4 linked regions of the Homo sapiens genome follow. Changing the gene in region 4 together with the main gene of any one other region gives a genetic interaction. Each region holds a gene or a part of one and is shown on either strand. Other genes may lie near its edges. The genes, in order: MTRES1, PGD, GATB and MRPL19.

Region 1 (6,599 bases), on a different chromosome or scaffold from region 4:
GTTTTTGGTTTTTTGTTTGTTTGTTTGTTTGTTTGTTTGAGATGGAGTCTCGCTCTGTCACCCAGGCTGGAGTGCAGTGGCGCGATCTCGGCTCAATGCAACCTCCGCCTCCCAGGTTCAAGTTATTCTCCTGCCTCAGCCTCCTGAGTAGCTGGGATTACAGGCGCACACCACCACGCCCGGCTAATTTTTGTATTTTTAGTAGAGAAAGGGTTTCACTATGTTGGTCAGGCGGGTCTCAAACTCATGACCTCATGATCTGCCCGCCTCGGCCTCCCAAGGTGTTGGAGTTACAGGTATAAGCCACCGCGCCCAGCCCAGGAGGATTTTAAGTAATGACAGGATTTGATTTGTGATTTAATAGGATCACTCTGGTTATTGTCCTGAGGATAGCCTGAAGAAAGGTAAGCCGCCAGGCGTGGTGGCTCACACCTATAATCCCAGAACTTTGGGAGGCTGAGGCGGTGGATGACCTGAGGTCAGGAGTTTGAGACCAGCCTGACCAACATGGTAAAACCCCATCTCTACTAAAAATACAAAAATTAGCTAGGTGTGGTGGTGCACGCCTCTAATCCCAGGTGAGACAGAAAGGGAGAAATTGAGTGTATCTCTAAGATATCTGACCTAAGTAACAGGAAGGGTGGAAGACTCATTAACTGAAATAAGGAATGCTGTGGGAGGAACGCATTGAGACCCGGATCTGGGTTTTGGTCCTATCAAGTTTGAGATTTCCGTTAGATTTCCAAGTGAAGATGTTAAGTAGGCAGTTGTAGTCTTGAATGCAAGAGAATGATCTCGGCTCGCAATACAAATTTGAGGATCGTCCATATATAGATAATATTTAAAGCCACGAAATTGTTGGAGATCGACTGGGGAACTAGGATAGATAAAAAGGAAAAAGATTAGAGGTCTAAGTATGGGGCACTTACTCTTTGGCATTCTAAGGATGTAATGAAAAAACAGCTGGCTGGGAGTGGTGGCTCATGCCTGTAATCCCAGCACTTTGAGATGCCAAGGCAGGTGGATCACTTGAGGTCAGGAGTTTGAGACAAGCCTGGCCAATATTGGTGAAACCCTGTCTCTATTAAAACTACAAAAATTAGCCGGGCATGGTGGTGCGTACCTGTAGTCCCAACTACTAAGGAGGCTGAGGCAGGAGAATCGCTTGAACCCGAGAGTGAAGGTTGCAGTGAGCAGAGATCATGCCATTGCACACCAGCCTGGGGGCCAGAGCAGGCCTCATTCTCAAAAACAAAAAAACAAAACAAAACAAAAGAAAAAACAGGGAAGAAGATTAAGTGGCAAGTGAGGTAGGTGAAACCAATGGGGTATCCTATAACTCAAGTAAGTTGAGGAATGAGACCAGACCTTTGGATTTACATTGCAGAGGTCATCTGTGACTTTGACTAGAAGTTTTGTTAGAATGTTGCAGGGTGACATCTTGTTTGGTGTATGAGTCAGAGTTCTCCACAGACAGACCTAATGAGAGAGGGATGGATGGATGGATGGATGGATGGATGGACGAATGGATGGATAGTTGGTTGGGAGGGAAAGGGGAATTGGCTCACGTGTAAATTGCGTTGGTCTTGAAAAGATGTTTCCTTAAACTGCGAGTCTGACGTATTTGCACATTTTTCTGGAAACAACGCCTATATCTCTTGGAGATGTTCAAAGAGGGCGGGCTCGGTGGCTTACACCTGTAATCCCAGCACTTTAAGAGGCTGAGGCTGGAAGATCGCTTCTCTTGAGTCCCAGCCTGGGCAATATGGCGAAACCCCATCTCTACAAACAAAACAAAACAAAACAAAAATTAGCAGGCCGTGGTGGCACACACCTGGAGTCCCAGGTACTGGGGAGGCTGAGGTGGGGAGAACAGCTTGAGCCTGGGTAGCAGAGGTTGCAGTGAGCCGAGATCGCACCATTGCACTCCGGGCAACAGAGTGAGACCCTGTCAAAAAAAAAAATGTTCAAAGGGGTTAGTGGTCCCAGAGAAAGGATCACTTCATTAATAATTAAGATGATTAGCCGGTCATGGTGGCTCACGCCTGTAGTCCCAGCTACTTAGGAGACTGAGGAACGACAATCGCTTGAACCCGGGAGGCGGAGGTCGCAGTGAGCTGAGATTACGCCGCTGCACTCCAGCCTGGGCAAGAGTGAGACTCGGTTTCAAAAAAAAAAAAAAAAGAAAAAAGAATTAAGATGGCCGGGCGCGGTGGCTCACGCCTGTAATCCCAGCACTTTGGGAGGCCGAGGAGAGCGGATCACGAGGGCGGGAGATCGAGACCATCCTGGCTAAAACGGTGAAACCCTGTCTCTGCTAAAAACACAAAAAAATTAGCCGGGCGTGGTGGTGGGCGCCTGTAGTCCCAGCTACTCAGGAGGCTGAGGCAGGAGAATGGCGTGAACCCGGGAGAATGGTGTGCCCCGAGCCTACTTCCCGCGCAGTCCTCCAAGACGCGGCCTCCAGCAGGGGTCGCTGCTTCGCTGCCGCCCTGGCCTCGCGCCCCGCCCGACCCGCTCTCACTGCGCCGGCGCCGGCGGAAGGGGCGGGGCGCAGATAGGGGTAGCCTGGAGGCCTGCAGTCCGCGCGGCCGCGGGGAGGGACGAGAGGGCCTGACGTACAGGTGAGTGCGCCTCTGCTGGCGCGCCGCGCCGGGCCCCCTGCCCGCGCCCCCTGTCACTTCGCCTCTCCGCCCCGCCCACGCTCCCGCCGGGTCTCCCCGTGAGTGTCCCGTGTCCTGCCAGCCTCGGGACGCCCCGCGAGCTCAGGGCTGCGCAGGGACTGTGGTAATTGAGCGCGGCGAAGCCTTCCGTTCCTGCCTCCTGTCGCTCCTGCTGGCTCCGAATGCAGACTGCGAACCCGGGGACGCAGTTGTCCATTTCCTTTGACCTTGGGGACCCAGGAAGGTGCACTGCCCGCGGGGGTGGGGAGGGAGCGAGAGGAATCCGACCCTGTCTCAGCCCACAGCCTCCGAGGTCTCCAAGTAAAGGGAAGGATCTTTAGCTGCATTAGACTTCAAAGCGTTTAGACCAGTTTCTCCATCTTACGGAGCGGTGAACGGGCTCAGGAATGTGGAGCGTTTCCTGGCGTCAAGCAGGTCAAAGTCAGCGCTGCTTTTTTTACAGACACTGCTTTTCTTACAGTCTTCGGTTAGTTCAGATTGTATACCTCTCCTGAAGATGTCACCCAAAACCTCCTATGGGATTCTGCCGTGATCATCTCTCCACTCATCCCACACCAACGCCAAAGAGATCTTTTAAAATGAACTTCCATCAGGTCACTTCCCAGGGTCCATCATTGCGTGTTCTTTTCCTGATTCATTCGAATGCACCCGTCCTCCTGATCAATTTTTATTCCACAGGGTGTTGTTTTGTTTTGTTTTGTTTTGTTTTTTTGAGACGGAGTCTTGCTCTGTCGCCCAGGCTGGAGTGCAATGGCGGGATCTCGGCTCACTGCAAGCTCCGCCTCCCAGGTTCACGCCATTCTCCTGCCTCAGCCTCCCCAGCAGCTGGGACTACAGGCGCACACCGCCACACCCGGCTATTTTTTTTTTTTTTGAGACGCAGTCTCGCTCTGTCGCCCAGGCTGGAGTGCAGTGGCGCGATCTCTGCTCACTGCAAGCTCCGCCTCCCGGGTTCACGCCATTCTCCCGCCTCAGCCTCCCGAGTAGCTGGGACTACAGGCGCCTGCCACCACGCCCGGCTAATTTTTTGTATTTTTAGTAGAGACGGGGTTTCACCGTGTTAGCCAGGATGGTCTCGATTTCCTGACTTCCTGATCCGCACGCCTAAGCCTCCGACAGTGCTGGGATTACAGGCGTGAGCCACCGCGCCCGGCCTGTTTTGTTGTTTTTTTTTTTGACACTCGCTCTGTCGCCGAGGCTAGAATGCACTGGTGTGAACTCGGCTCACTGCAGCCTCCCCCTCCCAGGTTCAAGCGATTCTTCAGCCTCAGCCTCCCAAATAGCTGTGACTACAGGTGTGCACCACCACGCTTGGCTAATTTTTGTATTTTTAGTAGAGACGAGGTTTCACCATGTTGACCAGGCTGGTCTTGAACTCCTGGCCTCAAGTGATCCGCCCGCCTCAGCCTCCCCAAGTACTGGAATTACAGGCATGAGCCACCGCGCCCATACTATTTTTATTTTAGATCTCACTGTGTTGCCCAGGCTGATCTCAAACTCTTGGACACAAGCGAGTCTCCTGCCTTGGCCTCCCAAAGTGCTGGGATTATAGGCGTGAGCCACCTGCCTGACCTCATCTTGCCCTCTCAATCCCCCTTACCCTGCTCCACTTTCTTCCCCCAGTGCATTAACCACCAGCTATCATATAATTTACAGGGTGTTTTTTTTTTTGTCTACCTGTTTCCCCTACTAGACTATAAACTCTACAAGAATAGGAATCTTCGTATTTTTTTCCTCTGCTGAATTCCTAGTGCCCAGATTAGTGCTTGGCACATGGTAAGTGCTTAATTAAGGGGAGGATGCCAGTGTTGCTGAAGCTGAATTTGCAAGAGTCAAATTGGCAGATGAGGTTGGAGAGGAAATGGGGGTTGAGGGAGCACCAGATCCTATAGAGCCTTTAGACCATCGTAGAGACTTTGCTGTTCTCTGAGTGCTTTGGTAGGGATTTGAGGAAAGGAGTGACATCGTATGAATGACTTTATTATGTGCCCACGTGGAGGTGTCAAATAGGCAGCTATTGTGTTGCAGGTCCCCAGGTTCATTGATTCACTAAGAGGACTCAAAAGACTCAGCACGTAGTCATACTCACAGCTGTGATTTATTATAGCAAAAGGATACAAAGCAAAATAAGCAAAGGGAAAAGATGCATGGGACACAGTCTGGAGGAAACCCGGTGCAGTCTTCTAAGAGTCCTCTCCTAGTGGAGTCACATGGGGTATGCTTAATTCTTGCAGCATCAAATTATGACAAGACGTGAGAGATCTATCAGGAAAGCTTGTAGAGCTCATTTTTCCAATAAAAAGTCACATAGGCACTGTCTGCCTAGAATGTGCCAAAATTTCCGCCGCCCAGAAAAAAAGCAGGTGTTTAGAATCACATTGTACAGTTTCCAGCACAGTGAGCCACTCTTATCCAGGTGGGAATTGTGGGAACCCTCGTGAAGTTCAAGTTCTGAGACACTAGCCAAGGGCCAACTTTGCAAGCAGGCATTCTAAGGATAGCAGTCTCAGGCCTGTTATGTTAACTCGTTTCTGCACAGATGTACGAGTCTGGAATTTGGGAGAAAGTTCTGGAATGGGGATATAGATTAGGGTGTGGTTGGCATATAGGTGGTATTTAAAGCCACAGAAATGATTGATGTCTTGATAATGCATTTGTAAGAACTAATTGGGTACATTTAAGAGCTGAGCTGGATAAAGTGAATGTAGAAGAGAAGAGGACCAAAGATAGAGCCCTGGGCCGCTCCAACTTTAAGATATCAGGGAGGGCCGGGCACAGTGGCTCAGGCCTGTAATCCTAGCACTTTGGGAGGCTGAGGTGGGCGGGTCACTTGAGGTCAGGATTTCCAGACCAGCCTGGCCAAGGTGGTGAAACCCTGTGTCTACTAAAAATATAAAAAGTGGCCGGGTGTGGTGGTGGGCGCCTGTAATCCCAGCTACTCTGGAGGCTGAGGTGGGAGACTATGGCTTGAACTGGGGAGGCAGAGGTTGCAGTGAGCCAAGATCGCGCCACCCACTGCATTCCAGCCTGGGCAACAGAGGAAGACCCTGTCTCAAAAAAAAAAAAAAGAAAAAAAAAGAAAAAAGGAGAAGAGAAGGAGGCAGCAAAGGAGTCTTTTCTTTTTTTTTTTTTTGAGATAGAGTTTCGCTCCTGTTGCCCAGGCTGGAGTGCAATGGCTTCGGCTCACTGCAGCCTCCGCCTCCCAGGTTCAAGTGATTCTCCTGCCTCAACCTCCTGAGTAGCTAGGATTACAGATGCCTGCCATCGTGCCCAGCTATTTTTTTTTTTTGAGACGTCTCACTCTTGTTGTCCAGGCTGGAGTGCAATGGCGCAATCTCAGCTCACTGCAACCTCTGCCTCCCGGGTTCAAGCGGTTCTCGTGCCTCATCCTACTGAGTAGCTGGGATTACAGGCACGTGCCACCACATTCAGCTAATTTTTGTATTAGTAGTAGAGACAGGGTTTCTCCATGTTGGTCAGGCTGGTCTCGAACTCCCGACCTCAGGTGATCCACCCACCTCGGCCTCCCAAAGTGCTGGGATTACAGGCATGAGCCACCGTGTCCGGCCAGCAGAGGAGTCTTGAGAAGCAGCAGCCACAGGAGAGACAGGAAGAAAACCAAGAGTAAGGTGTCTTGGCGACCAAGTGAAGAAGAGAGGCGTGATCGGTTTTTTCAAGTGCTGCTGAGGAGTCAATTAAGATGAGGACTAACATGACCTTTTGGATTTAGAAAATGAAAGGAGTGGAATTGAGGAGAGTTAGACAACTGTTTTGAGAAGTTTTATGGTAAAGAGGAGCAAGAAAAGAGGTGGTAGCTGGGGAGGAGTGGAGGCAAGAGGTTTGTGTAATTGCTTGCTTTTGAATGAGACAAAAGTAACAGCATCCTCTCCTTTACTATAGCCACCCCCACGTTGA
Region 2 (5,001 bases), on a different chromosome or scaffold from region 4:
CTCGAACTCCTAACCTCAGGGGATCTGCCCGCCTCGGCTTCCAAAAGTGCTGGGATTGCAGGCGTGAGCCACCATGCCCAGCAAAGGTGGTTCTAAGAGTAAAATACATAGACTTCTGGCAGGAATGAAAAAGGAGAACGAAGGATGCCTCTCGTGGTTAATGAGAGGCTGATCTTTGCTTCTGGCAGATTGTTCTCACTATATTAAAACAGAATTGGGCCAGGCGCGGTGGCTCACGCCTGTAATCCCAGCACTTTGGGTGACCGAGGTGGGCGGATCACGAGGTCAGGAGTTTGAGTCCAGCCTGACCAACATGGCGAAACCCCATCTCTACTAAAAATACGAAAGTTAGCCAGGCATAGTGACCCGTGCCTGTAATCCCAGCTACTCAGGAGGCTGAGGCAGGAGAATCACTTGAACCTGGGAGGCGGAATTTGCAGTGGGCTGAGATCGCACCACTGCACTCCAGGCTGGGCGACCGAGCAAGACTCCGCCTAAAAAAAAAAAAAGAAGCATCTCAAAAATAATAAAACAGAATTTTTCCTGTTTGCTCCTCTGGATACAGGTTGCCTTTCTCTCCCTTGACTCTTCTCCCCTTTTGACCTCCCTGTTCATTGTGCCTCGCCCTATTGAACTGTGTGGTGTAAGGCAGAGTAAGGAGGAAAGTCGGTGGTTTCTACAGTTCCGTGCTGTATAGAAGGAAGTTGGCTGCTTTTAGCCGATCTGAGCCATAACATAGGTGAGGAGGGAGGGGCCAATAGCTAGGAGCAATTTATTCATCACGGACTCAAGTATATGTGTAAGTATTAGGATCTCAGAATCCTACTCTCCTCCTGTGGATCCATATACCTCTTCCCCCAGGGTGGCTGGGCCCACCCCCTGCTGGGAGCCATCATTATTTGTGAACTAACAGGGAAGTCTTCCAGCTGCCCTCTCCCCCTCTAACAGGAAGGGTTTGCCTCATAGCCTGTTGCACCAGTCATCTTACAAAGCTTCCTTCTAGAAATGCTAAGTCATCCTGTGTGTGCATTTGGGCCAGGAGAGAGGTAGCTGCTTTTGTGTGTTTGGAGTAGGGTTAGCAGTCTCAAGCCATAGCTGCTCCTCTTTCCTCAGAAATAAAGTCCTCTGTTAGTTCCCTGAGATTTTACTTCATTTTGTCTATGGGGGAAAAAGTGGTTAAAGAGTCATTTATTCTAACTATAAGTTGTCAGTTGAGCAAGTCTTTTATAAGGAATACTTTCTGAAAATACTAAATGTCTTAATATTAAAATACTACATTGACTTTTTAATTCAAATGAAGTAAAGTGGTTAAACTTGAATGATTACGGCTATACTGAAAACCGTAAAATATAAAAACCTAACATTTTTTTGAGAGGTGAGTCCGTAAATGTGACTTATCAATGTAAAATCTTCAAAAAAAAAAATTAAGGTCCTCTAAATTGAATTTGAAATTTTACTCATGGACCAACACTGAGTATTCTACATAACAGTGGTTTTTATTTTATTTTACTGGTTTTAGAGACAGGGTCTCACTGTGTTGCCCAGGCTGGAGAGCAGTGGTGTGATCATGGCTCACTGTAGCCTTGAACTCCTGGGCTCAAGTGATCCTCCCACCTCAGCCTGCCAAAGTGCTGGGATTACAGGTGTTAGCCACCTTGCCCAGCCATAACAGTGGTTTCTATCTCTTCATTTTCCCTCAAAACTCCCTTTTGAATTTCATGTTAATCTTTGTGATTGAATACTCATGTTTGTATTGGAAGATTGTCTTAAGAGTTTTAGTTATCAAATTAACTGTTTAGAGCTTCTTATAAAAGTTCCTTCCGATCCATGTCAACTTTTGTGGCCTAAGGTTGAAACTTTCAGCTCTTTGTATAAACAGACTTTCCTGCTCCACCTTTCTTCTGGTTGCTGTGCGAACTTTGGTAATTTTCATGCGCATCCGTGTGAAAAGACCACCAAACAGGCTTTGTGTGAGCAATAAAGCTTTTTAATCACCTGGGTGCAGGCAGGTTGAGTCCGAAGAGTCAGCGAAGGGAGATAGGGGTGGGGCCATTTTATAGGATTTGGGCAGGTAGTGGAAAATTACAGTCAAAGGGGGTTTTTCTCTTACGGGCAGGGCCGAGGGGTCACAAGGTGCTCAGTTGGGGAGGTTCTGAGCCAGGAGAAGGAATGTCACAAGGTTAATCGCTCAGTTAAGGTGGGGCAGGAACAAATCACAATGGTGGAATGTCATCAGTAAAGGCAGGAACCAGCCATTTTCACTTCTTTTGTGATTCTTCACTTGCTTCAGGCCATCTGGATGTATACATGCAGGTCACAGGGGATATGATAGTTTAGCTTGGGCTCAGAGGCCTGACAGTAATCTGTTTCCTCTTCCCGATCTCCCCATGTAGGAGAAGCTGTCTTTGCTCGGTGCTTATCATCTCTGAAGGATGAGAGAATTCAAGCTAGCAAAAAGCTGAAGGGTCCCCAGAAGTTCCAGTTTGATGGTGATAAGAAATCATTCCTGGAGGACATTCGGAAGGTGGGACACAGTCCCTGGCAGTGGTCTTTGTTGGTCCTGCGGAAGGCAGTGGGGGTGGGGGTTGTGGTGGGAGAACACTCGAGGCCACAGGATGGCAGGTGGAATGAAGTTCAGCCTTGACTTGGATCTTGACTTACAATGTTTTCCTAGAATATTGGCCCTTCTGGGATCTCCACTGCTGATGAGAATAAGACTGGTAGACATAAGGCGGTCACTCTCCTAATGGCAATCCTAGTAGGTCTCTGTGTCACTCTTTAGGCACTCTACGCTTCCAAGATCATCTCTTACGCTCAAGGCTTTATGCTGCTAAGGCAGGCAGCCACCGAGTTTGGCTGGACTCTCAATTATGGTGGCATCGCCCTGATGTGGAGAGGGGGCTGCATCATTAGAAGGTAAGTGAGAGGCAGCCCAGGGTCCGACGGGAAGGACTCACACGGCTGTGCAGAAGTGCGATCTTAGGACACTTAGCTTGAGCAGTTTCCAGGGATGGGCACTTAGCCCCATCACTGGACACTGGCACAAGATAGGCTTAGATTATGTGGTTCCCTTCTTCACTGTACCTCAGTTGCTGTAACTAGATTGTCCACACTACACCTTTTTTTTTCTTTTGAGACCAAGTTTCGCTCTTATTGCCCAAACTGGAGTGCCATGATGCGATCTTGACTCACTGCAACCTCTGCCTCCCGGGTTCAAGTGATTCTCCTGCCTCAGCGTCCTAAGTAACTGGGATTACAAGGGCACGCCACCATGTCCGGCTAATTCTTTTGTATTTGTAGTGGAAACAGGGTTTCACCATGTTAGCCAGGCTGGTCTCGAACTCCTTGCCTTGGGTGATCTGCCCGCCTCAGCCTCCCAAAGTGCTGGGATTACAGGCGTGAGCCACTGCGCCCGGCTCCGCATTACACCTACTACACTACACCTTTTAAAGTACTTCTGTGAACTATCGTGCCCTCTGGCCTTGCCTCTTGGGAATTTTGCTCTGTATTTTCATTGAAAATGCCAAATCATAGAAAACGTAGCATTTCTACACATGACGTTACATCGTTCTCATGTTGGCTGAAGATTCATTTGATGAATCTGATTTTTCTGAAGTAGATGATTCTGGTGATTCAGATGATTCTAATATTAGTTCTCTTTAGAAATAACGCCAAGAATAGTTTTTATATTTTATTTTCATATTGAAAATCGTCAGATTTTCTTCAGCCTCAAAAAGCGTGTTTATGTAAAATTAAATGAGCGCTGGCAGCGAGCTGCACTTTTTTTCTAAACAGGAAAAGGGTTAACAGCTTGAAGAAATGAGAAATGTAACTTTGTTTCACTAGGGTATACATCGGCTTCCAGCTTACTTCCCTGTTAGAGTTAAGATTCATTGCATTTGGCCGGGCGCGGTGGCTCACACCTGTAATCCCAGCGTTTTGGGAGGCCGAGGCAGGCGGATCACGAGGTCAGGAGATCCAGACCATCCTGGCTAACACGGTGAAACCCTGTCTCTACTAAAAATACAAAAATTAGCCGGTTGTAGTGGTGCGTGCCTGTAATCCCAGCTACTGGCGAGGCTGAGGCAGGAGAATCGCTTGAACCTGGGAGGTGGAGGTTGCTGTGAGCTGAGATCGTGCCACTCCACTCCAGCCTGGTGACAAAGCGGGACTCCGTCTCAAAAAAAAAAAAAAAAAGACTCATTGCTTTTTTCCCCCCTTGATTATTTCAGTGTATTCCTAGGAAAGATAAAGGATGCATTTGATCGAAACCCGGAACTTCAGAACCTCCTACTGGACGACTTCTTTAAGTCAGCTGTTGAAAACTGCCAGGTATGTAGCCTAGGGCTGGTGCCATGGTTACTCTACCTCCCTGGGGCCATCAGTTGTGATGTTTGGTTTTTTGTTTTTTTTTTTTGGTTTTTTGTTTTTTTGAGACAGAGTCTCGCTCTGTCACCCAGGCTGGAGTACAGTGGCATGATCTTGGCTCACTGCAACCTCCGCCTCCTGGGTTCAAGCGATTCTCCTGCCCCAGCCTTCCTAAGTAGCTGGGACTACAGGTGTGCCAACATACCTGGCTAATTTTTTTTTTTTTTTTGTATTTTTAGTAGAGATGGGGTTTCACCATGTTGGCTAGACTGGTCTTGAACTCCTGACCTCGTGATCCGCCCACCTCAGCCTTCCAAAGTGCTGGGATGACAGGCGTGAGCCACCGCGCCTGGCCTAACCATCAGTTTTTCATTTACCCACATTGATATGAATGAAAATCTATCCGCGTCACCAGGGGCAGATCACTAATCTCTGGCCGTGCGTTTTGTGCTCAGGACTCCTGGCGGCGGGCAGTCAGCACTGGGGTCCAGGCTGGCATTCCCATGCCCTGTTTTACCACTGCCCTCTCCTTCTATGACGGGTACAGACATGAGATGCTTCCAGCCAGCCTCATCCAGGTAAGCCTGTGGAGCAGGGATTAACCTGGCTGGCCCCTCGGGGGCGTGCGCCATG
Region 3 (6,027 bases), on a different chromosome or scaffold from region 4:
GGTCTCAGGAATTGAAAGTGATTTGGGGGACCAAAAATATGCCGCATCAGATGGTTTAGTGTGGTGGAGTTTTGCAAAATTTTTTTAAGAGTATCATTTAGTGGTGATTTATTGTATCTGTGTCTCTCTGGTTATTATACATGCAAACCAAAACATGGTTGAGAATTTCCTTTTTAAATAAGAGACGTGGAACTATTTATCATTATTTCTCTAGTAGTAGAATGTTGCCATTTATGTTAATTCTAGATAATGTGGGAAAGATCAGCTTTCATCATTTACTGAGTGATTACTTGATAAGTTACAGTTAATTTGTTAAATGCCGCTTTTCACTGAAGTCAGCCAAGCAGTTGTCACCTGATACCCATTTCTAAATTGTTTTAAGACGCCAAATTGTTCCTTTCTCTATAGCCTTCATGTTTATATCATCAGCCTCCTGATGCCATGTTGTAAATGAATTTTAGTTTGCCAATCTCAGTGTAGGCGCTTATTCTAAATTGTTTTTTATTTAGTCACTGATAAAATATGACACATTTTTAATGTGAGGATATAACATTGTATTAAGTTTAAAACACATATAGGAAATTAACATTTGTGGTTTAGACTTATAGAAATTCATTCATGGTGACAAATATAATACATCTTAACCATTATCTCTTTCTTCTTAGTGAACACAAATGGGCTGCTGTGGTAGGTTTGGAAATTCATGCCCAGATTTCCTCCAACTCTAAACTCTTCTCTGGATCTCAAGTTCGCTTTTCAGCACCTCCAAATTCTTTGGTTTCTTTTTTTGATGCATCTCTACCTGGAACTTTGCCGGTAAGATTCTTATTTAATCCTATTTTCATTAGAAAAATGTTTATTTTATATTGAACATGGAAAATTATTTTCTTGTTTTAATAATAACACAACTCTTTGGAAATACTTATTTAGGGAGTTTTGGGTGAAGCGGGATATATTAAATGTTTTCTGAAGACCCATCTCTGTGATGCTGTTTCTAAGTCTGAATATATTCATACATGTATTCATCACTTCACAAACATTTTAGCATGTCTACTAATACCAGACATTGGGCTTTGAGCTGGGTCATAAAGATGATCCTTGCCTTTAAGGAGTTCAAAAACTAGTAGGGGAGATGTGTCTTATAAACAAACAGAGAACAGTGTGATTCCTTCTTTGAAGGTAATATGCAGAGGATGATTTCGAAACCCAGAGGAGGGACAACTAATTCAGTAAAAGAAAGGACTGTTGTGAGAAATTGAAGTAGGGGTACTTTAGGTTAAGGAAGGGTTACTGAAGAGGTGGTGGCCTGAGCTATTTGAGAAGCCCAATAAAATTTAGGCAGATAAATGAAGGAGGAGGAGGAGTCAACTCAAAGCAAGCAGTGTATATTACATGATTTTACAGTGTAAGGCCAGTAATGATTGTGGTTATTGCAAATTAAGAAACACTCAATAATGTAGAAAACAGCCATAATATGCAGTGAGTTAACTATTGTACTCACTTAACCACTCATTTTTACTTGATCCTATGGAATGACTGGGCCCAGTATACTCATCAGCAAGACTTTTGGCATATATTTTTATATAATTGGTTGAATTTTTAAGAAAAGTATGAAGGGAACAAGTAAATGTTTTAGCTAATAAATAGCATATGGTCTGTCCAGGACCTATAATATCAACTGTGTTTGGGGTTTCCTGCCATCTTTGGAGGAAATGTGTATCCATGGTGGTGACAAAGGTGGGGAGAGGCAGACATTGTCATGGGTAAATTCCATGCTCTCAAACATTTAAATAAGAGTGGAAGCTGGTTGAGGCCGGGCGCGGTGGCTCACGCCTGTAATCCCAGCACTTTGGAAGGCCAAGGTGGGCGAATCACAAGGTCAGGAGATCGAGACCATCCTGGCTAACACGGTGAAACCCCATCTCTACTAATAGTAAACTGCAAAAAATTAGCCGGGCATGGTGGTGGGCTCCTGTAGTCCCAGTTACTGGGGAGGCTGAGGCAGGAGAATGGCGTGAACCTGGGAGGCAGAGCTTGCAGTGAGCTGAGATCGCGCCACTGCACTCCAGCCTGGGCGACAGAGCGAGACTCCATCTCAAAAAAAAAAAAAAAAAAAAAAATCTGGAAGCTGGTTGAACTGAGCACTGGCAGGCTTGCAGAGGTATACTTTTCTCAGTCACTGACCAAAGTGGAAGATTCTGGGCAGTGCCTCCAGTATGCCTGCCTCACTCAGCTTTGGTTGTATTGGGGCAGCATCTTTGTCTTGGAACTTTTCTCTTATCGCATTTTCTGTCATGGAGGACTCCCTTCCCTGCAGACCATATCAAGGATCACCTTTGATTTGCTGCTGGGTCCCTCTGGGAGAAGATAGATGTGGAGGTGTGCCCTCTTTCTCTCTCTCTGACTTAGAGATCTATCTATGGAAAGATTTTTTGTTTATTTGAGAAGAGTGAATATTTTGGTTATAAATATATGACATCTTTTTTGGGCAGAGATTCAGATATAGTAGAGATACAATAATATTTATTGTAAAATGGAAGGCAAGTTGTCATAACACCTCTACATTTTCCCTTCCAGATTCAAAACATTTTTTTCCCATGTTGTAGTTAATTATCAAGAGATTAGGCATAAGCTCTGAGTTCATCCTAGGTTTTTCCAGCTGTGAATGTGATGGCTATCAGGCCATACTTATTACAGTTCACTTTAGAAACAGGTCCATTTGCAGATAAGCATGTTTTCTGTATATAGACTCTCCAGCTGTACCTAAATTTGGTCAAAAATTAGACCAAATTAGAAAAATTCAAAATAATTAAAATGCCAACATTTTAATTGCTTTGTAAAACTTGTCATGCACCAAAAAAGAAGGTGCTTGTTCACTGATAAGCATATCAATAACACAGTGAAGGTGTTTGGGACATTTGAGTGTTGAGAGCTTGGCTTACATTAATTAAATGGCAGACAAAGTCTGGAAATACAGTTTTGTATGAGCTAGGATTTGTTTTCCTCTTCAGAGCCTACAACGCTTATGGTTTAAGTAGCCTAGATGGGTTATTCTGTAGACAGAGGAGATCTACCTCTTCTTCAGAAATGTTTCTGCCTTTAAGGGACCTCATTTTGTACGTGAGCAACATTATACCCAAACTCCCAGAATTAAGCATTGCCATTCAAAACATTTCAAAATCTTTTGATTTACCTCTAAATAGATTTAAAATACACTAAAACCTTTAGACAGTTGTCCTTCCCCTAAGCCCTATGGAGATGTATAAACATGCTCTGATAGCCAGACTCTGCTTATAACTCCATTCATAAGAAACCAATAATTTGAGAATATGTTTGTGCTTCCGAGGATTTTAGTAGAACATTATGTTATTGTTTTGGTCAAGTAAACCAAAGTGTAAGTGTGATTCATGATGATACTTGAAACTCTTTCTGCGCAGGGCTTATATTGCTCCCTTCTCTCCTGCTTCTTCCCCGCCCTCTACCTGGCTGATTGTGCCTTCTCACATGGCTGTGTTCTGCCACTCAGCCCTGAAATGTTGGTTTCCCATGCCCTATTCTTTGGCTCTCAATTCTTCTGTTACCTGTGTTCCCCTGAGTAATCTTTTTACCCTCAAATAAAGCTCCCCTCTCTCTTTTAGGCAAGAAACCTATATCTATTGTGTCCTACTATATATTTCCATCTGAATGATTCATAAACATCTTAAATTCAGCAGTTACAGTGTTAAGCCTGTTATCTTTTCTCCCCAAAGTTTCACTGCCTCCTGACGAAAGAATAAACCAACAAGGGAAAATATATGTAAGAAGAAGCAAAAATCAGTGGGAAAAGGATAAGTTATTTAACTGATGGTTTTGGAATTGGTTAGCTATTTGGAGAAAAAGTATCGCTCATTTCACACATCAAAACAAAGTTCATATATATATAATATAAGTTAAATGTCAAATTAAATCCAGAAATATCTAGGAGAATATTTGTTTGTCCTTGGGTTGGGGAGAAACTTTGTAGGCATAAAAGCAAGAAAAAACAGCTAATTAGGCAAAATGGCAATTTGACTACTTTATTCGCCCAACATGTTTATTGACGTAGTAATTCTTTTAGGAATCTGTCCTTGGAAAATAAACATGTGGGCAAAGACTTATATGCAGAGATGTCTATAGCAGATCTATTTTTAAAGGTAGAAAATTGGAAGTAACCACAGTTTCTCAGTGATGGGGGAATCATTGAGTAAATTATAATACATCAGTACAGTACAACATTATGAAGCCACTGATAATGTTTATAATAGACTTTTAGTGACATAGGACAATGCTAAAGATAAAAATTCTAGTGAGATGAATAGAATTTTCATGTAGATTACTTAATCTTCTTTGCATCAGTTTCTTATAAAATGGAGATAATTGACTCATTGGATTTGTGTGAGAATTAAATGAATCAGTACCTTTAAAACACTTAAAACAGTAATTGCATGTAGTAAGTGCTCTTATTAATTAACAGATAATTAACAAGTAATAACAGGTAATTAATTAAAAAGCTCTTAATAATAGGTAAGGTAAATCTTACCTGCTAGCATACCCATAATGATTGGTGGCTTTTATCTTTACAAAGGCTCTCCTGAGTTATTGTGCACAGTTACGTTGCCAGTGAGAGCAAAAGTAAATGCTACACATAACAATTGGTCACTTAACCTTGATTTCACCAGTTAAGTGATCTGCCAACAAAAACTAACCTGGGTATCTCATCACCTCAGAGATGTATAGAGAATTAAGTAAATAATGAAAACCAGTAAAAACTAGTATATGGATAAAATTATTTCTGAATTAGAAATCATTACTTTTATTGCGAAAAAGAAGGCTTATGAGCTTTTTTTTTTCCATCTGTAGTTATTTGGAGTGTTTCTTTGGTTCAACATGGTATTGGCTCTTGATTTAGTAAAAAATTAGGATTGTCACTTAAAACAATTGTTATAATGTATAGTCTTTCTGTAGACATTTCATTCTTCTTCTCTGTCGGTTGTGTCTTCATTCACTCAGCTGGCATATATTGGATGCCCACGTTATGCTAGCCCTTGTGTAGCTCTAGTGACACAGTTTTGAACTTGGTAGACGATAGATATGGGTGTTGCCCACATGGAGCATGAACAAGCAAGCAGGCAGTTGCACTACCTTTTAATAAACATGTTAGTCGTGGAAATACAAGGTGCTTGAGGAGCACATAGGAAGAGTATTCAACACAGATATAAGGAATTGATGAAATTGGCCAAGTAGAAAGTGAATAGGATGTACAAAGACCAGAAGAAAAACAACGTGGCTTGCTCTAGAAACTGAAACGTTTTCCATGTGTTGTAGCATAGAATTTGAATATGGGCATTGCAAGAGGTGAGGCTAGAGCAGAAAGCATAGCCTGTACCATATAAGCCCTGATAAAGGGTGTGGATCCCATTTGCAAAGAGGTAAGAAGACGTAAGGAGAGTGCAGGGCCAGAAACTCCAAGGAAGTGAGTGTTTTGAGAAGGAGGGAGTACAAGAACATTGGATGCTACTGAGAGGTCAAGTAAAGTGAGGACTAGGAAGTGCCCATTGGATTTATTAAGAAGGGTATCCTTTGCAAGAACAGTTTGAGTGGGGTGATGGAAACAGAAGGTAGGTGGCAGTGGATTGAGAAATGTCATGGCATGGAGGAAGAAGTGAGTGTGGGCAACTGTTTCAAAAAGTTTTACTATGAAGGACAACAGAATGCAGCAAGTGAAAGGAGACATAGAATCAAGAGAAAACATTTATTGGTCATGTCTTTCTTAATATTGGAGAGACTTGGGAATGTTTAAATGCTGATGAGTTATGTAGTCTATGATAGTGTACACTTAAAATGTGTTTAAGAGGATAGATCTCATGTTAAGTGTTCTTACTGCAATAAAACAAAATTTTTTAAAAATGCTGATGAGAAGGAGCCAATGAAGAAGGGGTAAAGACAGGAGAGGCTTTTGATTAATATGATCAACTGAACACATGCATTTTAATCCATCCTCTCTGTAAC
Region 4 (6,027 bases):
ACCCATACCTCATTAACAGGAACTTTTTGGTTAGGCTCTTGTACTACTGGCTTCATATTCACATCAAAAGTGCTATATTCAGGAAGGGCATCTCGTAAGTATAGCAAGCTATCATCCAGCCGTTTCTCTAATTTGACCACCTGAATCTCCTGGACCCGAGGATTATAAAGTTCAAAGCAAATCTCGACACCTAAATAGAACAGAAAACATATTCTTACAATCTAAGTCCACGTTCCTATACATGTTTCATACTGCAGTAAAAGCATTTCATAAAGGAATTAGCACAAAGTTTTGCATGTAGAAAATGTGCCGTTAATTTGAAATTTTTAAGATAAAGATTACTGAAAGAAATAGAAATAAGCTAAAATCCATTTAAATATAAAGTTAGAAAGTCTGAATTGGAATGATAGTCTAAAAAAGAAAAAAATGGCTTCTAGAAATATGTTGAGTCACATATCTCTTCAATTCTCATAGTAGTAACTTCAGAGAAAGTCTGAATTCTTCCCTATGTCACGTTTTTTATCTCCCAATTACTTGAAGAAAAATCAATCTTCCATGTTAAGAGTAATAAGACTAATGGTACAAAAGAAGTAAAATATTAAGTTCCAACTTTGGTTAGAAGCTCCTTTGATTAAGGATTAGTGGATTAAAGGGATGGAGAGAACTAGTTTTGCCTTTTGCCCTTCCACCTTTCACCATGTGAGGGCACAGTGCTTGGCCCTTCCAGAGCACACAGCAACAAGGCACCATCTTGGATGCAGGGAAGGAGGCCTCACCAAATACAAAACCTGCCAGCACCTTGAACTTAGATTTCCCAGCCTCCCGAACTGTGAGAAATAAATTTCTGTTCTTTCTAAATTACCCAGCCTGTAGCATTTTGTTACAACAGCACGAACAGAATAAGCCACCAGAAATGTAAACCAGAGAGACTGCACAAATGCAAGCAGATGATGGTGACATGGATGAGGGTGATAGCAATGTAGAGGGAAGAACAGGCAAAATTGTGATATATTTTTTGGAGACTGTGCCAAGAAAACTTGATTGACTGCATGTGTGAAAGTAAGTGGGTAGGCAGAGTGGTACCATTTATGGAAATAGAAAAGACTGTGAATGGAACACCTTGCAAGGGGAAATAAAGAGTTCTGCTTTCAACTTATGCTGGTAAGACATCCAAATAGAGTGTTGATCAGATAGTTGCAGATAGTTGCAAATCTGGAACTTAAAAAGGGTCAGTCCTGGAGTTATAAATTTGGAAGTTATCATTATACAGATGGTATACAAAGCCACCGAACAAGAAGGAAACACTAATGCAGGAAGCAGTGATGGGGAAGGTTGAGGCAGGTTACAACAGTCAGACATACTACAGAGAATGGCAAGAGGGAGCTAATCCTTTTTGAGTATTCTGTGTCCAGTACTTCAAATACAGTATCTCACAGTTGATTGGCTAGAACCATGTAGAGTAGAAACTATTACTATCTTAATGCTTAAAGAAAATCAAATGACTCACTCCTATGCTCATTTACTTCTATTACAAGGCCTCTCCAAGTATTTGACCAGATTGAAGGCACAAATCAATTAAGTCCTGCTGAATTCCTGCACGCACAGCCCACTGTCATTACAGAATAAGCAAGACAGCAACTGCTTTCACATTTTCAATTTCTTTGAAAATAAGAATACTTTGTTGTTGGAACTTCATGAAGCACACAACTTGATAAACGTAATTGTTCCTGCCATTTTAATTAATAATCTTGCTAGAGTTTTACTCCTTGTTCCTCTATTAGGCATAGTATATAAACACAATTTTGCCTTTTTAAAATTCCTCCCAAGTCATATAAGACAGTGATAATTTTGTTTTGTGTCATAACATAAAGTAAAATGTGGGTATTCATTTTAGGAGCAAGTAATTCATGAAGACATTAAAGGTTTGTCTTAAAGTTTTACTCATGGGTTATTTGCTCCTAAAACAAATATCCCCATACTGCTTTATAGTAATTTATTCCCCTCTTTGATGTTGCCATGGTTTGCAAAGTCTACTTCTAATGACTGTTGTTCCAATAACATAAGAAGCCTTCAAGAGAAAGAAGTCCATCAACCATATTTAATCATTAACTTCAAATCTCAATCCATTCTAAAGCCACAGGCTCCACATCTTCCCTCAGAGTCTCCTTTTACTTTCAAATTTCAGATTTCTTATCCCAGGATGCAGAAACAAAAAGGAATCCTGAGATAACATTTTCTAGACAATGAAAATGATGAAATAAAACTTACCTTGTCCTTCGATAACATTCCTAAGGATGAAAGTAGCTCCAAGTCCTCTTCCTGATCTCTGAATGCAAATCCCCAGAAACTGGCTGATTTTTCCACTGGCATATGGGTCAGCTGTAGTAACACGAAGAATACTTCCTACAAATTCAAAAGAGAAGTGAACTTTTTTTTCAGCACACCCAGCTGAGAAGTAAACTTTATATAAGATGCAGAAACAAACAAATAGCATTTCTAGATAACTTAACTTCCTAAATGTTTTAATGTAGGAATAAATACTTCATATGAGCATAACCCAGATATGTAAAAAACAATCTTCTTTTGCTTTTTAAGAAAACTAACCATCCAATCACAAACTAGCCATCCTAATTACTAATAATAAAAACATACAGCTCTTACTGACCAACATAGAACTCTGGAATGTGGAGTACTTTTCTCCTTTCTAACATATCTTTTCTTTCTATTTGAAATTTCAGAGGATCTGTTCTTCCCCTTCGAGGAATGAATTCAGGACTCAAGAACCTGTAAAAAATACAAATAAATAATTAAAAGTAAACTCAAAAGGCTGCTAGAAGAAAAATTGTTGCTTTTCAAAGAAATTAAATATGATATTGATGTATTTTATTCTTCATTGTCTAAATAAAAGTCAATCTTATTTCTAAAATTGTTAATGCTCATGAAAATAGCTAACAATTCCTGAGTACTCACCTGGTATTTTGTTAAAAGCTTTATGAAACATCTATAGCATAAATTAATCCTTCTAGCAACCATGTGGGTTTGGTGTCATCTCCTTTTTACAGAGCAAGAAACTGAAGCTTGAAAAAGGTAAATAACTAACCCATTGCTACATTAGCTATAAATCTGTCAAATCAAGATTTAAATGTAGGTATGTTGGTCAGTCTCCAAAGCCTATAACCATTACTACAGGCCTCACACTGAGCTATACATGCTATAATAAATTATGTCAGAAAAGACATCAACATATAAATCACTAATTATAAATTGACTTTTAAAATGATCTTCCTGATCAGAGAAGATGGCCCTGGAGATGGTGCTGAAGGACCTGGGGCATCTGCAGGCTTGTTGGCTGTGTTTGCTGGTCAAGACTATAGACCAGTTTGAATATGAAGGTTCTGACAACTGTAACACCTATCTACAGACGAAGAGTAACTGAGATGGTATATGACTGCACTAGCTCTTCCTTTGATGGAATCATTGCAATGATGAGTCCAGAGGACAGCTAGGTCTCCAAGTGGCAGCGAGTCAGTAACTTTAAGCCAGGTACATATGCGGTGTCATTCACTGGTCACCTGCCCCAAGGAATCGTGTAGGAGCTGAAAAGTCGAGGAGAGACCTACAAATCCAGAGACACAGCTGCAGCACATCGTGTCCCTGAACCATTTTCTCTTCCTTGGATGACAGGTGCGGGTGGGAGGGATTTGGGTTGGTGGATTAACAGATCGAACTGAAGAGAAAGTAGGATGCTGATTTTCCTATCCATGGCCCAGGGATGCACCTTGCCCATGGCAAGGACTCTAGGTCAAATGCCAATAAATATGAACCTCTAGAAAGTTCTTAAGGCCATGATACATTCCTTGCCTCCCTCTCCCTTTCTCTTAGGCACAGTAAGAGCTTGTTTATGCTGTAAGAATCTTCCCAGAACAGCAGAGGCCCTTCTACTCCCTACTGACTGTCTCTGAGCCTTCTGTACTGCAGCCTTTCTAGTGTGCTTCCTTGCTTCCAATCAGAAGGTGCTGTCCAGAGGCTAGGTAATCCCATCAGCTTGGTAGTCCTGGGGTCTCGTGGTTGTATCTTTCTGCCCTCTAGACCTGGCACAGCAGTATCCCTTGAAGAAATCCTGAGGCTTCATAGTGCTCTTCGCTCCTTGACCACGTTTAATAATTCTTGCTTTTCCCCCTCCTCGTCTCTTCTCTTCTGTTTACCGCTCTTCCTATACCTTAGGCCAGTCTCACATCCCTGCATTTCACATTCTCCTAACTGGAGACCCTTGGGCCTTAGGCAACTGCTGGGTCCTAGTCTGCCTTGTTTGTGCCTCTGTAGGAGGTAAGTCCTTCCTTTTCTCCTCTGGCCTAGTAGGGGACCTTGGGTAATGTCCCATTTTGGCCAAGGTGAGGTATTCGTTTTAGAATAAAAAATTCACCATAAATTCTCATTTACTTAAATTTCCACAGAAATCCTGTTAGTGTCCCCGTTTTGATTTCCCTAAGTTGCTGGTTCTCCCTCTGTAAAAAGAGAATGATTAGACCCTGCCTGTTTACCTCAGGATTGTTGTGATTGTAGAAATGAAGCTATGTGAAAATTGTGTAAGTCTTACAAAGGTGAAATCCTTTTGCTTAAAAAATAATAATCTTCTTTTTTTCTTCTTTAACTGATTTTAAGCTCATTATGAAATATTTAATCTACATAAAAAGTATAAATGACAGTACAATGAATATTCATGTCTTTACCACCCACCTCAAGAAATAAATTATCAATATTGTGGAAGCCCCTGTGTATTTAGGATAGTTCATTACTATCCTAAATTTGGTGATTATTCCCATGAATTTCTTTCTCTTCCTCAATTTTCTACTTTGAAAATTTTAAAGCCTACCAAAAAATAGTAATACAATGAACACCTGTAGATCTTTCATCCACTTTTACCAACTGCTAAAATTTTGCTATATTTGCTTTATATACACATATCATTTTTTTCTGAACCATTTGAAAATGTCAGCCAGGTGTGGTAGCTTACGTCTGTTATCCCAACACTTGGGAGGCCGAGGAGGGTAGATCGTTTGAGCCCAGGAGTTCCAGACCAGCCTAGGCAACATAGTGAGACCTCATTCTACAACAAAAAAATTTTTAAAATAGCCAGGCATGGTGGCGGGCACCTGTAGTCCCAGCCACTTGGGAGACTGAGTAGGGAGGGGCCCAGGAGTAGGAGTTGCAGAGCCAAGATCATGCCACTGCACTCCAGCCTGGATGACAAAGCAAGGCTCTGTCTCAAAAAAATGGAACAGCAAGGCATTTCATCCCTCAATAATTTAGAAGGCTTATGCTAAGAATAAGGACTTGCTCCTATATTATCACGATACCCTTCTGACACCTATAAAAGTCAGCATTAATTTGATAACATAATCTAATACAAAGGTATCCAATCATCTGGCTTCCCTGGGACACACTGGAGGAATTATCTTGAGCCACACATAAAAGACACCAACAATAGCTGGTAAGCTTAAAAAAAAAAGGCACAAAAAAAATCTCATATGTTTTAAGAAAGTTTACAGATTTGTGTTGGGCCACATTTAAAGCTGTCCTGGGCTGTGGGTTGGACAAGCTTGGTCTAATACAGAGTTCATACTCAAATGTATGTCATTATCCTGGGAAGGTATTTTACATCTATTCGTTGCCCAATTCAAAATACAATCAAGCTTCACACATATTTGGTCATTAGTCTCTCAGACTAGGACTTTTTTCCAACTTTGTATTTTTATAACATTAACTTTTTTGAACAGTCAAGGCCTACTATCTCATCTCTGGATTCTGGATTGTTTCCACATGCCTAGACTAAGGTTAAATAATTTTAGTAAGAATATTACAGGGAGATGATGTGAACAACTTATTCTGTCACATCAGGAGACACATAATATCAACTGGTACCAATACTGGTAAAGTTAGGTTTGACTGTTTGGCAAAGTTTCAGAAGGCCCCCCTTACATTTCTTTTTACTTTTCATATGCATGTATGTCTGGGCAACATATATTG

The links.
Region 1: changes in MRPL19 (region 4) and MTRES1 together harm fitness more than expected from each alone (negative genetic interaction), as found in Homo sapiens cells (one large-scale study listed by BioGRID).
Region 2: changes in MRPL19 (region 4) and PGD together harm fitness more than expected from each alone (negative genetic interaction), as found in Homo sapiens cells (one large-scale study listed by BioGRID).
Region 3: changes in MRPL19 (region 4) and GATB together harm fitness less than expected from each alone (positive genetic interaction), as found in Homo sapiens cells (one large-scale study listed by BioGRID).

Annotation. Positions count from the first base shown.
Region 1 is NC_000006.12:107,025,648-107,032,246, forward strand, and holds the start of MTRES1 (mitochondrial transcription rescue factor 1), read left to right. Parts: upstream 1-2,551; 5' UTR 2,552-2,624; exon of another isoform or gene 2,625-3,199; coding exon of another isoform or gene 3,200-3,277; intron 3,278-4,362; exon of another isoform or gene 4,363-4,457; coding exon of another isoform or gene 4,458-4,460; intron 4,461-6,599. UniProt on the Homo sapiens protein: Mitochondrial RNA-binding protein involved in mitochondrial transcription regulation. Functions as a protective factor to maintain proper mitochondrial RNA level during stress.
Region 2 is NC_000001.11:10,414,594-10,419,594, forward strand, and holds part of PGD (6-phosphogluconate dehydrogenase, decarboxylating), read left to right. Parts: intron 1-2,393; coding exon 2,394-2,524; intron 2,525-2,782; coding exon 2,783-2,916; intron 2,917-4,232; coding exon 4,233-4,332; intron 4,333-4,823; coding exon 4,824-4,946; intron 4,947-5,001. UniProt on the Homo sapiens protein: Catalyzes the oxidative decarboxylation of 6-phosphogluconate to ribulose 5-phosphate and CO(2), with concomitant reduction of NADP to NADPH.
Region 3 is NC_000004.12:151,753,561-151,759,587, reverse strand, and holds part of GATB (glutamyl-tRNA(Gln) amidotransferase subunit B, mitochondrial isoform 1 precursor), read left to right. Parts: intron 1-665; coding exon 666-816; intron 817-6,027. UniProt on the Homo sapiens protein: Allows the formation of correctly charged Gln-tRNA(Gln) through the transamidation of misacylated Glu-tRNA(Gln) in the mitochondria. The reaction takes place in the presence of glutamine and ATP through an activated gamma-phospho-Glu-tRNA(Gln).
Region 4 is NC_000002.12:75,648,899-75,654,925, reverse strand, and holds part of MRPL19 (large ribosomal subunit protein bL19m), read right to left. Parts: intron 4,618-6,027; exon of another isoform or gene 3,278-4,617; intron 2,785-3,277; coding exon 2,666-2,784; intron 2,404-2,665; coding exon 2,269-2,403; intron 191-2,268; coding exon 9-190; intron 1-8.